Linked DNA regions of Homo sapiens: region 2 is linked to region 1. A link means that fine-mapping ties the variant in region 1 to the expression of a gene that starts in the linked region. Tissue or cell type: whole blood. Region 1 holds a variant in brackets; the other region holds the start of a gene. All regions are shown on one strand. Distances are from middle to middle.

Region 1 (2,686 bases):
CCCAGCTAGATTCTGAATCACCTCTTTATGAGCCCTGGCAGCAATCACCCATCGCCTTTGTTGTGTCCATCAGGAGGGTCCTTGGTAAGTGGCAACTTCATACTCACAGCAGGCTAGTTACTGGCAGGGATCCCTTCTCTGCTAAGGGACCCCTGGCTTGCCCTGTCTCCCAGTCCAATGTGCAGTCCTCTGTGAATCCAAGAGCCATTGGTGAGGCCAGGTGGGGCCTGGGGAGAGCCTGGCCTGCCAACAGGGCCTCACATGGTGGCCGGGCTCACCTGAAGACCTGTTTGCCAAAGTGAGCAGCCTCACTTTGCTGCTCAGAAACCTTGCTTATCAACAGGCTAGGAGGCTCAGGAGCAGACTCACTGAGCTCTAGGAGAGGAATGGATTCAGCCAACATGCCAATTCATTCATTTCTAATGAATAACAAAACCCCTGTCAAACCAACCAGATACTTGGGTTTGCTGATGAGCACATTCACTGCCTGTGGCAGTTTCACACAAGGGTATTCGGAAGTTCAGTGGGAAGTCTCCTTGAAGAGCATGGAAGCTGGGCTAGGAGAGCTGGTTGAATTGGTCTTCATGGTGGTGCCAACCTCTTTGTCAAGATACATCTGGTAACGCCGTTCAGGACACCCTGCCCCAGCGCAGCTTTTGGGAGCGCCTCCCCACGCACGTACACATCGGACATCACAAAGACAGCCTTGCTGGGCTAGCACATTCTTCCCACAGAGTGCATTGCAATGACTTAGAGAGTCACTTTCACAGTCAGCTCACACCCATCACATTACTGCAAGGATTAAATGAGACAACACATGAACATGCTTTTTAAGCAATACATCACTGGAGAAAACCTAAGGAGTGAGAACAGGTACTCAATAAATGTTTAATAAAGGGCCTCCACCCGCTTTCCTGGCCCCAGCCCCTTATAAAGGGGAACTTGATAGTTAAATCAAGTGAAAACCCATTCCCTAATAAACACATCAACATTTATTAAGACCTTACTATTGTTCTAGGTGCCATGGAAAATACAGAAGCAATTGAGGCACGTCCCCTCCTTCAAGGAATTTACTTATAATAAAGTTGGGGCCATAAACTAACACCTACAGGATGGATGTTAACAGCACAGAGGTGGCTGGGCACTGTGGCTCACGCCTATAATCCTAGCACTTTGGGAGGCCAAGGCGGGCGGATCACCTGAGGTCGAGAGTTCGAGACCAGCCTGACCAACACGGAGAAACCCCGTCTCTACTAAAAATACAAAATTAGCCAGGCACATGCCTGTAATCCCAGCTACTCGAGAGGCTGAGGCAGGAGAATTGCTTGAACCCGGGAGGCAGAGGTTGAGGTAAGCCGAGATCGCACCATTGCCCTCCACCCTAGGCAACATGAGCAAAAACTCCATCTCAAAAAGAAAAAAAAAAAAAACAGCAC[A/G]GAGGTGAGTGTGCCAAGGGTGTGTGTAGTAAGACGCCCCAGTTCCACTGGAGCTGGTTGTCATGGGACTGCTTGTGTTGACGTGGCTACACTGAAAACTGGCTGTTTTCGGTCCCCACTCTTGCGTCACTGGATTGGTCAGTCAAGGAATAAGCCCCCCAGCTGTGGGGCTCTGCACGCCTGGGCCCAGGGGCAGAGTTAGTAGAGCAGATATTTGAGAGCCCAAGTCATTCCTCATAAGCAATGTTAGCCTTGCTGTCCCAGCCCTTGCTGGAAATGCCCACGAGGGTCAGAATGGGCAGACAGACTGGGCGTGGTGGCTCACACCTGTAATCCCAGCACTTAGGGAGGCAGAGGCGGAAGGTAGCTTGAGCCCAGGAGTTCAAAACCTGCCTGGTCAATATCTCAAGACCCCATTCTCCACAAAAAGGGGGAAAAAAAAGAATAGGCAGACAGATGCCAGGTAGGGGTGAGGAGTGGAGTTGGTCAACTCCCTCCCTCGCCAGTCATGGTTGGGGGTGGGGTGGGCAGCACACGGCTGGCTCCTTGACCCTGGCCTCCCACCAGGCTCACCCATTCTGTCTTTCCGCCTAGCAGGGTTGACTTTCTTTAGATGCCTCTTTAAGGCTCCAGGAACACAGAACTGCAGTTCTGTCCTTCACAGCTAAGTCAGCTTGGTCCACCTCACAACTGAGTCCCATACCCAGGCCTTTTGGGGCAGTCTCTCTAGCCCCAAGATTCCCCACATCTGCACCACTCATCTCAGAAAAAAGAACAGCTTGGAATTACATTAAATTATGTGTGTGGTGTCACATCATCCCCCATCCCAAATTAACTTGCGGGGCAAAGGAGTAGATACCGATCACCACTGAAGTCTCTGGCATTGTGCTAGAGCACTGGTTCTCCAAGTGTGGTCCAGGAACCCCTGGGGGAACCCCTGGGGGCTCCCCAAATCTTTTCAGAAGGTACACACAGTCAGAAGTGGGGTTTGTTGTTGGTGGTGGTGGTGTTATGAGACAGGGTCTCGCTCTGTCACCCAGGCTGGAGTGCCGTGGTGTGATCATGGCTCACTGCAGCCTTGACTTCCTGGGCTCAGGTGAGACCACAGGCACGTGCCACCACCCCTGGCTAATTTTTTGTACTTTTTGTAGAGACAGGGCCTTACTATGTTGCCCTCGAGGCTGGTCTCGAACTCCTGGACTCAAGTGATCCACCCAACCTGGCCTCCCAAAGTGCTGGATTATAGGCCT
Region 2 (2,686 bases), 29 kb before region 1:
TTGGACAGAATAATACTCATTTCACAGGATTAGGTTATCAAGATGGCCAAAGGGGAAATGTTCCCTTTCTGCCATTTAAAGCAAGAAGGAAAACCTATGGCCATTCTCATTTCACTGTAAATGAGCACTCAGAGTGGAGATTCTGGACCTAGCAACTCCAGGCCTCAAAAACTAAGTCAAGCTGGGCGCAGTGGCTCACGCTTGTAATCCCAGTACTTTGGGAGGCCGAGGCGGGCGGATCACGAGGTCAGGAGATCAAGACCATGGTGAAACCCTGTCTCTACTAAAAATACAAAAAATTAGCCGGGCGTGGTGGCGGGCGCCTGTAGTCCCAGCTACTCGGAGAGGCTGAGGCAGGAGAATGGCGTGAACCCGGGAGGCGGAGCTTGCAGTGAGCAGAGATCGCACCACTGCACTCCAGCCTGGGCGACAGAGGGAGACTCCGTCTCAAGTCAAACCTCATAACCTACCACCAGTGCTCCTGGCACCAAAATCACAAGAAAACCTTGGGTGGAGCAACCATTTTCAGACTTAGGGACACAGGTTAGATAGTCGGCATGTAAAAATGTTAAATAAATATGTATCCCTTCGGGTTCTCTCCACCTCCAGCCGACACATCCTAAATAAATTCCACTAAGTGGTTGAGGGAATCTACTAAACCTTAGAAGCCCTCTTTTTTTTTGAAACGGAGCCTCACTTTGTTGCCCAGGCTGGAGTGCAGTGGCGCCATCTTGATTCACTGAAACCTCTGCCTCCTGGGTTCAAGCGATTCTTCTGCCTCAGCCTCCAGAGTAGCTGGGATTACAAGCGCGCACCACCACGCCCGGCTAATTTTGTATCTTTAGTGGAGATGGGATTTCGTCATGTTGGCTAGGTTGGTCTTGAACTCCTGGACCTCAAGCGATTCGCCTAAGAAGCCCTCTTTGAGGAAGAAGGAAGAAGTTTCCAGGGCCATTGGATTCCAATATCCAAGTAAGGTTGATCTAACTGAAGACAAGTGAACTCGAACCATAGGACAGCTCTGCACTAACCCTCCCACTAGGCTGGATTCTGCCTCTGTTCCATCCCAGCTCCCTTTCTCCTTTATGGACTCAATGAAGTGGTCAAGCAATTATAGATTTTGGCTTGGGACAAGCAAATTACTCAGGATGAAGAAATACTTTGGTGACCTTTAGTGCCCTCAGATCGCCCCTTGCCAACTGAGAACAGAGTACAATAAAACAACAGGGCATTAAGCAGGACCAAGCGCCACTCAGAGGCAAGTGCAGCTCCAAGGGCCCTCAGAGTAAGCTTCTGGGCCTCAGGCGGCCTTCGCTGGAATCCCCTAGTCCCCATTCCTGGTGGGCGGGTTCCATTGACACCTTTCCCGGCCACGCCGAGGGGGAGGAGGCGGGGCCTGGAGCCCCGGAGAGCCAATGTGGACGGCCGTGGTCACGCGCCGCCGTCGAGCAGGCCAATGGGCGCCGGGGGGCGTGTCCAGGGCCTCGGGCTCAGGGCGTTTATAACAACTTGGAATGCTGTGCTTTACTGCGCGCTCTGGTACTGCTGTGGCTCCCCGTCCTGGTGCGGGACCTGTGCCCCGCGCTTCAGCCCTCCCCGCACAGCCTACTGATTCCCCTGCCGCCCTTGCTCACCTCCTGCTCGCCATGGAGTCGCTGGTTTTCGCGCGGCGCTCCGGCCCCACTCCCTCGGCCGCAGAGCTAGCCCGGCCGCTGGCGGAAGGGCTGATCAAGTCGCCCAAGCCCCTAATGAAGAAGCAGGCGGTGAAGCGGCACCACCACAAGCACAACCTGCGGCACCGCTACGAGTTCCTGGAGACCCTGGGCAAAGGCACCTACGGGAAGGTGAAGAAGGCGCGGGAGAGCTCGGGGCGCCTGGTGAGTGCGGCTCCCTCTCGCGGCGCGGGGCGGGCTCCGGCTTGGCCGCCGGCAGGGAGCGGAGGAGGGCGGGCGGCGGCTCGCTCGTTGCTCGGCGGAGAGGCCAGCGTGGTCTTTACCGCGCTGAGCTTGCGGGGCTACTGCGGGGTGTCCCTGGCAGATGTGTCAGTCCGTGATTGCAGGGACAGTGGTCGCAAACTTGCGAACCCCAGCCAGCAACACCGTACTGCTGTGATGATTGCCAAATAAAAGGGAGGCTATGGATAGTTGGCGCGGAAAAACGAATCGTGTCGTGTCCTGGGATAAGATGGATGGGACTTAAGTTGAGTTTTGCTGGGAAAAGACTGTTCAATAGAGTGCAATGGAAAGAGGAAGTAGAAGGCACCCCATCTTAATAGGTATTTGGTAAATATGTGTGTGGTTGAATGAATGGATGAGGTGTGGATTTCCCCAACTCCAAGAATCTGGCAACCCAGCACACTGGAGCTCTGGCACGGGGTGGGTTTTGACATTTAGGTCCTTTCCAGCTCTAAAATTTAGTTGAAATTTCATTATGATGAGTTTTTGATTCTGGAAAATGTGAAACCAGGTCCACTGTACCAGAGACACCTTTCGGTTTGGGGGCCTTTTCAAGAACATGCCCTGTTACTTTGGTGCGAGCGTAGGAGTCTAGCAGTCTGTGTGACCTTGGGCAATTTCCTTCATCTCTGTACTTTGTTTCCCCTTTTGCAGAACTGTAGAAAACACAGCCTGCCTCACAAGCTGCTGTGAGGATTGAATAAGATCGAAATATGAACTTATATTGCTCC

Evidence for each region. PIP is the estimated chance that this variant, and not a neighbour inherited with it, causes the effect.
Region 2: it holds the start of NUAK2, and the variant in region 1 is fine-mapped to the expression of NUAK2 in whole blood (TOPMed, PIP 0.99).

What each region holds. Positions count from the first base shown.
Region 1 is chr1:205,291,586-205,294,271 of GRCh38, reverse strand. No RefSeq gene overlaps it. Among named protein-coding and RNA genes, the nearest start is that of NUAK2, 29 kb to the left of the region's middle. RefSeq lists enhancers at 1-355, 2,352-2,591. The variant A/G (reference allele first, on the strand shown) is at 1,437.
Region 2 is chr1:205,320,589-205,323,274 of GRCh38, reverse strand. It overlaps NUAK2 (NUAK family kinase 2), which reads left to right and starts at 1,530. Exons shown (of 7, transcript NM_030952.3): 1 at 1,530-1,877. The coding sequence starts at 1,647. RefSeq lists a silencer at 1,844-2,023.